2 linked regions of the Homo sapiens genome follow. The protein of the gene in region 2 interacts with the protein of the main gene of each other region in a pairwise test. Each region holds a gene or a part of one and is shown on either strand. Other genes may lie near its edges. The genes, in order: CFAP141 and PTGES2.

Evidence for each region.
Region 1: the proteins of PTGES2 (region 2) and CFAP141 interact in binary tests that used the Homo sapiens proteins (3 or more experiments, as listed by UniProt).

What each region holds. Positions count from the first base shown.
Region 1 is NC_000001.11:154,198,585-154,203,333, forward strand, and holds the end of CFAP141 (cilia- and flagella-associated protein 141), read right to left. Parts: intron 2,005-4,749; coding exon 1,875-2,004; intron 945-1,874; coding exon 843-944; 3' UTR 501-842; downstream 1-500. UniProt on the Homo sapiens protein: Microtubule inner protein (MIP) part of the dynein-decorated doublet microtubules (DMTs) in cilia axoneme, which is required for motile cilia beating.
Region 2 is NC_000009.12:128,124,730-128,131,656, forward strand, and holds the start of PTGES2 (prostaglandin E synthase 2), read right to left. Parts: upstream 3,001-6,927; 5' UTR 2,989-3,000; coding exon 2,710-2,988; intron 713-2,709; coding exon 515-712; intron 143-514; exon of another isoform or gene 50-142; intron 1-49. UniProt on the Homo sapiens protein: Isomerase that catalyzes the conversion of PGH2 into the more stable prostaglandin E2 (PGE2) (in vitro). The biological function and the GSH-dependent property of PTGES2 is still under debate.

The sequences.
Region 1 (4,749 bases), on a different chromosome or scaffold from region 2:
TAAAGTGAACCCTTGTAAGTAAAGTTGTCTATGGCCTTCATATGATGCACATGGTCAATCAGTACTTTTCAGTATTTTTCAGAATTTTGAGTGCCTTTATTTTGACTGCTCTTTCCAGCCCCCTACAAATCCCACCACTCCTTATTTCCTTACAACTGTAACATTACCTGCCTGACCCCTGGAGACATTTAAGTTTGGAATCCTCTCTCTTGGCATAGGTGGGAATTCAGGCCCAGTGGAAAGAGACTTGTCCAAAGTTTCACAATAACTAGCTGACTCAAAACCCAAAATGCAGGCCTCCTCACTCAAGCACTACGGTGTCTGTAGATTAATAGCCACATTCAGAACAATTTGTCCAAATATAAATAAAAGATAAGTGAAAGTGATATCTGAGAGATGGCAAGTGAAATCCAGGAGGTTAAGATTACAGTAGCTGAAAAATAAGCACTTTTGAAACAAATCAAGATTTAGACATGAAAGAATGAGCCCAGTGGTCTAAGTTTGAGCCTTTAGGAAGTAAATTTATTTGTTATACCAAATCAGGATTCTCAACTCTCATTGTCCACCCCTCCCCACCCCTGCCCCCTTACATCAACATAGTAAATCCCACTATGACCACAAGGCGTCACTCTTGTTGTTACTGTTGTTTCATAGATTGTTTCCCAAATAGCGGCAAAGGATTAACGAGAGAGTGGAGAAGTGAGAGTGGAAGTGCTGTCTTAAGTCCCTGACAGATAGCAAGATCCAGGTATGTTTTGGGAAGGAGGTTCAAGGTGGTAGAGGTTCTAGAAGGCTAGGTTAGCAGGCATGTTGAGAATGGAAGAGCAGTGTTTTGGATGCCATCAGAATCTCTCTACATAAAAAGCTTTGCCCATCTGATTTAGTTCCTGCTGGTACTGCTGATGCTCCTTTTCAAACAGCTGGTGCAGGGCAGCTTGACGGACCTGGTGGAGAGGGCAGAATAGAGTGTGTTGTTTGCCTCTGTTTACCACCCTTTCTTATTCTTTCTTCCTAGTTGTTTTCCCATTATTTGTGTTCTCTTGGAGCTGGACTTAGCTGTGACATAAAGCTGGGTGGTAGCAGAGAGGCTGAACCAGCAGAGGGAAGCCTATCCAATTTTTTTCTCCACAGGCAAAGCCCTATGTTCAGCAAATATTTGCTGAGAACAGACCATGAAACAGGAACTCTACTAAGTAACTGGGATACAAAGATGGTTACATGGCACCAAGTGGGGACCCCGGGAGAGAGAGAGGTACCGAGAGGCAAGTGATACGCACTAAGAGGCAGTTTTTTTTGTTTTTTGTTTTTTTGAGACCAAGTCTTACGTTGTAGCCCAGGCTGGAGTGCAGTGGCACAATTTCAGCTCACTGCAACCTCTGCCCTCGTTTCAAGTGATTCTCGTGCCTCGGCCTCCCAAGTAGCTGGGATTATAGGCAAGTGCCACCATGCCCGGCCAATTTTTGTGTTTTTAGTAGAGAGGTGGTTTTGGCATGTTGGTCAAGCTGGTCTTGAACTCCTGGGCTCAAGCGATCTGCCCGTCTTGGCCCCCCAAAGTGCTGGGATTACAGGCCTGAGCCACCACACCCGATCTAAGAGGCAGTTTTGAGTCTCACCAAGATGAAAGGAGCAGGAACTAGAGTATACTTTGGGACTTTAACATGTGCCTGCCGCCTGTAAGGTGGATGCAAAGAATCACTTAATGAAAAAGAGTTTTGGCAATGGAGTTAGAGTTGTGTTGCTCTGGTGTAATGCTGAAAACCTAGAGGCAAACAAGATAAATGTGCAATGACACACACTAAGAGCTTGGAAAACTCAATGGGCAAAGGCACACAGCAGTAGTGAATGAGACTTCAGGTTGCCCTGCTAGAACTCACCATTAGTAGTTGCTTTTTGGCCAGTGCCAATTCCTGTACCATGGTGTCCTGCATCCTTAGGGTGGCATACGGGTTTCTTCTCTGGCCCAATGCCATTTGCCACAGACAGTGAGTATGTGAATTTCGCCACCTGCTCCAGGTACAGAGGTGGGGGTTGAATGGGTGGGTTAGAGTTAGGAGTAGAGACAAAAAACCCATAGAGTGAGGCTGTTTCTTTTTTCTTTTTCTTTTCTTTTTTTTTGAGACAGAGTTTCACTCTTGTTGCCCAGGCTGGTGTACAGTGGTGCAATCTTGGCTCACTGCAACCTCTGCCTCCCAGGTTCAAGTGATTCTCCTGCCTTAGCTTCCCAAGTAGCTGGGATTACAGGTGCCTGGCACCATGCCCAGCTAATTTTTTGTATTTTTAGTAGAGATAGGGTTTCACCATATTGGTCAGGCTGGTCTCGAACTCCTGACCTCAGGTGATCCACCTGCCTCGGCTTCCCAGAGTGCTGGGATTATAGGTGTGAGCCACCACGCCTGGCCCAAGACTGTTTCTTCACCTGGAACCTCTGCCCCACTGTTAGAAGACTGTAAAATCCTTAAAAGGGTAATTTAGAACCTAGTATGTATTAAGTACATAATATCATTTAATCATTACAGTAACTATGTGGCATAGGTGTTATTTTATTTATTTATTTATTTATTTTGAGACAGAGTTTTGCTCTTGTTGCCCAGGCTAGAGTGCAATGGTGTGATCTCGGCTCACTGCAACCTCCACTTCCCGGGTTCAAGTGATTCTCCTGCCTCAGCCTCTTGAGTAGCTGGGATTACAGGCATGCGCCACCGCGCCTGGCCCATAGGCATTAATTTTTACATGATACAGGTAAGGAAACTAAAAGTTGTGAGATGCCCAAGGTCACTTAATGGCAGACCTGGGACTCAAATCCAGCTTTTTTTTTTTTTTTTAGACAGAGTCTCACTCTGTCACCCAGGCTGGAGTGCAGTGAGGCAATCTTGGCTCACTGCAATCTCTGCCTCCAGGGTTCAAGTGATCCTCCTGCCTCAGCCTCCTGAGTCGCTGGGACTACAGGCATGTGCCACCACACCTGGCTAATTTTTGTATTTTTAGTAGAGACGAGGTTTCACCGTGTTGGCCACGCTGGTGTCGAACTCCTGACCTCAGGTGATCCGCCTGACTCAGCATCCCAAAGTGCTGGGATTACAGGTATGAGCCACCGCGCCTGGCCCCAAATCCAATTTCTCTAAAGTTAATATCCCTTCCCTCATACTAGTGATTCTCAGCCCTGGCTAGACTGGAATCTTCATTGAAGTTTTAATTTTTTTTTTTGAGAAATAGTCTCGCTCAGTCGCCCAGGCCAGAGTGCAATGGCCCGATCTTGGCTCACTGCAACCTCTGCCTCCCAGGTTCAAGCAATTCTCATGCCTCATCCTCCTGAGTAGCTGGGATTACAGGCGCCCACCACCACGCCCAGGTAATTTTTTTTTTTTTTTTGGAGACAGAGTCTCACTGTGTCAGCCAGGCTGGAGTGCAGTGGCGCAATCTGGGTTCATTACAGCCTCTGTCTCCTGGGCTCAAGCAATTCTCCTGCCTCAGACTCCTGAGTAGCTGGGATTATTGGTGCATGCCACCACGCCCAGCTAATTTTCATATTTTTAGTAGAGACAGAGGTTTCACCATGTTGGCCAGGCTGGTCTTGAACTCCTGACCTCATGTAATCCACCTGTCTCAGTCTCCCAAAGTGCTGGGATTACAGGCGTAAGCCACCATGCCTGGCTGCTAATTTTTAAATTTTTAGTAGAGGTGGGGTTTTGCCATGTTGGCCAGGCTGGTCTCGAACTCCAGACCTCAAGTGATCAGCCTGCCTCAGCCTCCCAAAGTGCTGGGATTACAGGAGTGAGCCACCATGCCAGGCCAGTTTTAAGTTTTTTAATATATAGAAAGAATATAAATATACATCATGCATGTACATATATCTACTGTTGGCATTTTTAAAAAATCAAAAGTACATTTTCCACATGTTGAAAAAATTGAATCTACACAGAAATACATTAAGTGAGGCCGGCCGCGGTGACTCATGCCTGTAATCCCAGCACTTTGGGAGGCCCAGGCGGGCAGATCACGAGGTCAGGAGATCGAGACCATCCTCACTAACACGGTGAAACCCCGTCTCTACTAAAAATATAAAAAAATTAGCTGGGCGCAGTGGCGGGTGCCTGTAGTCCCAGCTACTCGGGAGGCTGAGGCAGAAGAATGGCGTGAACCCAGGAGACAGAGCTTGCAGTGAGCCAAGATGGTGCCACTGCACTCCAGCCTGGGCGACAGAGCAAGACTCCGTCCCAAGGAAAAAAAAAATACATTAAGTGAAAAGTAAAAACTTTCTGGGTGCAATGGCTCATGCCTGTAATCCCAGCACTTCGGGAGGCTGAGGCGGGCAGATCACTTGAGGCCAGGAGTTCAAGACCAGTCTGGCCAACATGGTGAAACCCCATCTCTACTAAAAATACAAAAATTAGCCGAGCGTGGTGCCACACACCTGTAATCCCAGCTCCCCAGGAGGCTGGGGCACGAGAATCACTTGAACCCAGGAGGTGGAGGCTGCAGTGAGCCGAGATTGCACCACTGCACTCTAGCCTGGGTGGTGGAGTAAGACTCTGTCTTAGAGAGACTCTGCCTCAAAAAAAAAAAAAAGTTGTTATCTCTGACTGGGCAAATATATATATATATATATATATATATATATATATATATATATATATATATATATATATATATACTTTGTTGGGAATGACTGTAGTTTTTACTTTTTTTTTTTTCTGAGTCAGAGTCCTGCTCTGTTGCCCAGGCTGGAGTGCAGTGGTGCGATCTCTGGTT
Region 2 (6,927 bases):
GGGAGGAAGGTGTGGGAAAGCCGTGGGGTCTAAGCCCCAGCCCACTCACCCATTTGGCCTCCCAGGTAGAGGGGCAGGGTGGGTTCTGGAAGCTACATACTAGACCCCAAGCACTGTGCCAGGCATTTCATATCTGCCGTCCCTGCAAGCCAGAATATGGTCCCTTGTTGACTCATGAAGCAAGCAAGCGCAGAGAGGCTAAGTGACTTGCCCCAAGTCACACAGCTAGTGAGTGGGTGAATCACACCTCAAACCCAGATCGCTGATTTCAGAATCTATGTTGTTAAGCTGTGGTGTTCTGCCTCCCTGAGACCCAGCAGGTGTTTGGTTTTGGTACGGAAGGAGAGAGCCTACATTTATTGAGCATCTACCGTATGCAGCTACTTCCCCCATAGTCCTTACAGGCACAAGGATCACAAGTTCCTTCCCAGGCTGCAGAGCCAGGCCAGGCTAGGGGGCGCTCCAGGACAACCCAGGAAAGGAGGAAGGATGCAGGGGGTTCCCTGGGGCTCACCGAGCTTTCTCCTTCCTGGGCCACCAGGATGGGCACCTTTCTGTAGGAGGAGAACTTGATCTCAGCCCTGCGCACAGGGTTCACCTCCACCACCTGGTAGGGCAGGGCATGGAAGTCGAGGAAGGCTCGGACCTTGCTGCAGAAGGGACACGTCTTGTACTGGTACAGGGTCAGCTGCAGGCGGCTGGACAGGGAGAGCTGCGGGCAGCAGACGGAAAAGGCTTCTAGACCTGGCACCCCCAGGCCCAGGCCCTGCCCCCAAGGGTGTTTTCCAGAGGAGTCTTCTGAAATGACGCTAGAACATCGGGAAGAGGAACTAGAGATGGAAGGGGGCGGTAGGGGAAAGGGAGGCACTGGACAGCAGCCCAGGTTTAAGCCCCTGGCCAGCACGGTCCCCAAGCAGGAGTCCCACCCTTTGCTGCGAGGTTGTGTAGGAGGAATCTTCTAGTCTCTGTCCCATACTGGACAGACCCCTCTTTTCTCACTCCAGTCCCAAGGGGACACCAGACAGCCCCAGGGTATACACCCCACTCCCACAGACATGGAACAACTGTTTCAACTTGACTTGTTCACTCTCACTCCTCTAACCCCAGGGACCTCTGGGGGCAGAGCTGGGCTACCACCCAGGCTCATGTTCACCAGTGGGGTCTACCTCCAATCTCTTTCTTGTTTTTTTCTCTGGAGACAGGGTCTCACTCTGCCATCCAAGCTGGAGTGCAGTAGCTTGATCACAGCTCACTGCAGCCTTGAACTCCGGGGTTCATGTGATCCTCCAGCCAAAGTCTATCTCAAATATCCGAGGGGGAGGGTGGTATCTGAGCCAAGGCCTGCGTGTGGCAAGCTCCGCAGGAAAGCCCCCAGGGGAGCCTGCTGCACGTTCATGCCGGGAAGCCACAACTGTAGACCATCCCCCTGTGTTCAGAGGGGAAGCTGGACCGTGGAGGCAGGAAGGGAGACACAGAGTACTCCATGCCCTTTTTACCCACCTCTGTTCCCTCTGGTCCAGCAAATAAGCATCTGTGGGCGGGTGGTGGGAAGTCAAGTAATGAAGAGTTGCAAGGTGTGGGGTAGGTATAAAGTGTCTCAAGGCAGCTGGGCCACCACTTAGGGGGTCACCACTTGGGGGGGGCACCTTTCTACCTCTTCCTGTTTCAGCCTGGAGTCTAAGTCATCAGTTCCATAAAGGTACCACCACTACTACTAAATAAATACACAGCCTTAGGATTTGGGGGCAGTGGGGAGAGAGGATGATGAACGTTTGGAAAGTGAAAAAGGCTTTCCCTTTCCTGTGATCTCCCATCTCTTAATCAAAAAAGTCTTAAAACACGGTAGAGGCTGGGCTCCGTGGCTCACACCTGTAATCCCAGCACTTTGGGAGGCCGAGGCGGGTGGCTCATTTGAGGTCAGGAGTTCGAGACCAGCTTGGCCAACATGGTGAGACCCCCGTCTCTAGTAAAAATACAAAAATTAGCCGGGCTGGGTGGCAGGCGCCTGTAATCCCAGCTACTGGGGAGGCTGAGGCAGGAGAATTGCTTGAACCCAGGAGGCGGAGGTTGCAGTGAACCGAGATCGCGCCACTGCACTCCAGCCTGGGCAACAGAGCAAAAAAAAACTCCGTCTCAAAAAAAAAAAGTCTCCTTAAAACATGGTAAAGGCTGGGCGCAGTGGCTCACGCCTGTGATCCCAGCACTTTCAGAGGCCAAGGTGGGCGGATCACTTGAGGCCAGGAGTTCGAGACCAGCCTGGGCGACATGGTGAAACCCTATCTCTACAAAAAATACAAAAATTAGCAGGGCGCAGTGGGGTGAGCCTATAGTCCCAGCTACTCGGGAGGCTGAGGCAGGAGGATCCCTTCAACCTGGGAGGCAGAGGCTGCAGTGAGCCGCGATCGCACTCCAGCCTGGGCGATAATGCGAGACCCTGTCTCGAAAACATAAATAAACAAACCAAAAAAAAAAAAAAAAAAAAAACCACGGTAGAAGAACGATTTTATGAGAACTCGAACAATTCCAGGTAGTAGGCATCAGGAGTGCCCCTATTTTACACAAAAGAATACAGAGGGTTCGGAGACTTCAGACCAAGTCACTCGCCCAAGGTCACAAGCAGGCAGAGGCAACTCCTGACCCTGCGGGTTCCCAGGAGTCCCGAGTTCGGCGCTGATCAGCATCCCCATCCCCGGCCGGGCCAGGCCTTACCTGCGCGGCTGAGCGCTCTGCGTGGAGGTCCTGGGCGCGCAGGTGCCACCGCGCCGTGTGGTACAGCCCCAGGGCTCCCCCCAGGGCCAGCGCCGCAGCTCCCAGCAGCCGCGGGCTCCCCTTACGAGCTGCAGCCACGGGGCTCGGGCCGCCCGCCGCCCCCGCGAAGCCAGCCCGGCTCTGCGTGGGTAGCAGCGGCTGGGGGCGGCCTCCCAGCCTCCAGGCCAAGGCGCACCCACCAGGCCACAGCGCCCGCACCACCCGCGCAGCCGGGTCCATGTTCGCTCCGCCGGCGCCGCGGGCGGGCGCGCGAAACGAAGACGCCGAGGCACGCGCGGCGTTTAAAGGGCCAGGACTCTGGCGCCCCGCGGGTTGGCCGGGGTGAGGGCGACGCTAAGGGAACCCTCAGCGCTCTCGGGACTGGGCGTGTGCCCGGCGCCCAAGTTCGAAACGCCCGCCAGAGCCGCAGAGGCCCGCTCGGGAACGTTTGCAGACCGTTCCATGCTTCCGCCTCCAAAGGCTCTTGGGTAGTGACCCGGCCGACTGCAGGGGGGCGAACGTCTCCTCGCCCCACCTTGACCGCCTAAAGGGCGGCGTGGCCGTCTGTAACACGTACTTGCCCACCTCTCTTACGGGCGCCCATTCAAAACAACTCCAGCCCTTCCTAGAGTCAGTACAGGCGCCGCGACTTCCGGCCACTGAAAGCCCCGGAAACGACCCGACCCGGCACCAGGTGTTGCGGTTCTCTCTGCCCTCCCGCCTCATTGTCCGCTTCCTACTGTGACCCGAACCATAAAATTTTCCCGAACCCGAAGGGGCCTTGGAAACCACGTGTCTCTGATTTCGCCCACGCGAAGCGGCCGGCCCGCCGACCCCGAGATTTCCAGGGAGAGGATGGCAAAGTGGGGTGCCAGGCTGCTCGGTCCTTCTGCTGGGCTCCCCCGCCCTAGCTGAAGCCCGGAGCCTCCACCGCATAGGCGTCTCCGCGGACAGCCCCGGGATGGCCCCGCCCGGCGCCCGAGAGGGGGCGGGACTCGCAGAGTGGGCGGGGAGAGGGGCGGGGCGAGGGGGGAGCTCTGAGTCCCGGCTCTGCTGCTCCGCCGCGTCCCACTCTTCTCGCTCCGCTTTCGCCCCGCATCTTCCACCTTCCTTCCAGTCCTTGCGGCGACCGAGCCCGCAGTGTCAGTCCCCAGCGGGGACCTGAGTATGCCGGTGAAGACGAGAGCGGAAGGCGAGGACGACGGCTTCGGGGAAGCGGGTGACCCGAGGAGACTGCTGGAGCGACCTTGGCGTTTCCGGGGGTGCCTTCCCGGGAAGGGGAATCGGGATGTTGGCTTCGAAGGGACCGAAGGGCCCACCTCGACCCGCCCCGAGTGGGTTTGGAGTTGTAGGTGCTGTCTCGGATGCAGGGCGAGCACCCGCGAGCGGGTAACCAGTCCCGTGAGAGCTGCAGGTCCCCAGCCCCGTTTTACAGATAGGGAAACTGAGGCAGCTGCTGGGACACTCGCCCATATGGGTTTTGCTCCACCCACTTCCTTCAGCCACTTTACAGACCAGGAGTTGAGGGACTGCTCGAGCTTAGAGTGTTTAGGGGTGGTTGAGGGTGACCCCCATGTTCTGTGCTCTACTCTATCCCTATCCAGGCCTTCTCCCAGCGCCACTCTCACGCTCCTGCTTGCTAGCTCCTGCTTGCTAGCTCCTGCTCCTCCCAGCTTCATCCTCCTCCTGTTTACATTAATTGCTCCTGATCTTCCACACTCTTGATTTTCCGGATTCTAACTCCATCAAAATGTAACTTGATGTGTTCAGGCCCCGGGGACACCTAGGCACTTGAGGGGGGCGGGTCCGTGTTTGGCCTGCTGGGCTTAGTAGGAGGGTCTGGCCCGGGGCGGGGAGCGCGATGCTCTGCTGGGTCAGCATCTCCAGCCACCTGGCTTTGCTGGTGTGGCCTCGCAGCCTTGCCAAATGTGAGCAGCTTACAGAGCAACCAGTTGCACGTGCTTAAGCTGCCGAGGTGACACAGGGCGCTGTAGGGTCCAGCCCCACAGGGTCGGTAGGTCTCTCCCTGTGTGCGGCGACGAGAGAGTGTAGAAATAAAGACACAAGACAAAGAGACGAGAAAAGGCAGCTGGGCCCGGGGGACCACTACCACCAATGCGCGGAGACCGGTAGTGGCCCCGAATGTCTGGCTGCACTGTTATTTATTGGATACAAGGCAGAAGGGGCAGGGTAAAGAATGTCAGTCACCTCCAATGATAGGTAAGGTCACGTGGGTCACGTGTCCACTGGACAGGGGGCCCTTCCCTGCCTGGCAGCGGAGGCAGAGAGGGAGAGGAGACAAAGAGAAAGACAGCTTACGCCATTATTTCTGCATATCAGGGACTATTAGTATTTTCACTAATTGACTACTGCTATCTGGAAGGCAGAGCCAGGTGTACAGGATGGAACATGAAGGCGGACTAGGAGCGTGACCACTGAAGCACAGCATCACAGGGAGACAGGCCTCCAGATAACTGCGGGCGAGCCTGACTGATGTCAGGCCCTCCACAAGAGGTGGAGGAGCAGAGTCTTCTCTAAACTCCCCCGGGGAAAGGGAGACCCCCACCCTCCCTTTCCCGGTCTGCTAAGTAGCAGGTGTTGTTCCTTGACACCTTTTGCTACTGCTGGACCATGATCCGCCTGGTAACGGGCGTCTTCCCAGATGCTGGCGTCACCGCTAGACCAAGGAGCCCTCTGGTGGCCCTGTGTGGGCATAACAGAAGGCTCGCACTCTTGTCTTCTGGTCACACCTCACTATGTCCCCTCAGCTCCTATCTCTGTATGGCCTGGTTTTTCCTAGGCTATGATTATAGAGCGAGGATTATCATAATATTGGAATAAAAAGTAATTGCTACAAACTAATGATTAATGATAGTCATATATAATCATATCTAAGATCTATATCTGGTATAACTATTCTTGTTTTATATTTTATTATACTGGAAGAGCTCGTGTCCTCTGTCTCTTGCCTCGGTGCCTGGGTGGCTTGCCGCCCACACACAAAAAAGATAAATGTTTGAGGTGATGAAGATCTTAATTTCCTTGATTTGATCATTACATGTTTCATACAGGTATCAAAGTATCACATGTACCCCCAAAGTATGTACAACTATGATATATCATAAATAAATGAATAAATAAATAATAAAAGACAGAAGCCTGACCATGCTATGTTCAATCCACAGCTACGCCCCTCACTGTGCACCTGATCTCCCCATCTCACGCCAGTTCCTGAGAGACAGGACAGAGAACAGGGGCAGGGCTGCCCTGCCCTAACCACTGGTCTTCAGTTAGTTATCCTGGCAATACTTCCAAGGTGCCCTGCCCTGGTGCCCCCCACACTTGAGATAGCCCCGTCCTATCCCCCCACCCTGCAGGTGGGTCTGTGCAGAGGTGAGGTCACTGCTCCAAACCTCAATGGAGGGCACTGGGGCAGGTGTGCGCCATCCGTCACTGCACCCAAGGCCGTACACCATGCAAGCAGTCCTTCTCCCTTTTCCACGTGGAGGCTTGTGCATCTGGGGACAGATTTCAGAATTTAGGATACCCTAGTCCCCTCTTCAGGGCTTTGTCACCCACCTTTCATGTCCATAAAGCAGCAGAGCTTCTGTGGCCATGTCTCAGTACGTTTGATCCAGCATCAGCAAAGAAAGCCCAGTCTTTTGAAAGCCAGTGGTTGCAGTAGGCACATCCTCTCCAAGCCTATGCTCCCCAAGGTAGAGGTTAGCTATTTCTTGCCAAGTATGAATGCTGATTTCCAATGGCCATTAGGGAATAGAACCCCCCACCCCAGGGAAGCAAAGCCACCCTCTTCCTCCTCCCCCTCACTCAGCTCCCATTATTGGCCTGCCTAAGGAGCACCTCTGGGCTCTCCTAAAAGAAGAAAAGCCACTGTGTCCTTGCAAGTCGCACCTTTGTCCCTTAGTTCCACGAAAAGCTGCTACATGCCTACAGTGTGCCAAGCACTGGGGCTCTCCCTGTGGCACCTCGTTACACGCTAGAAGGCAGGTGCTGTTCAGAAATTTCTGATGCTGTTGGTGTCCTGCACTCAAGATGCTTCCCAAAGCCAGATTCCACTCACCGGCAGCCTCGCTGGGAGCACAGAGGGTTTCCTGATGCTCACACTCCACAGAGAAACAGGTGGAGACGTGTCCATCAGGGCGAGAAGGTGGCCATTGG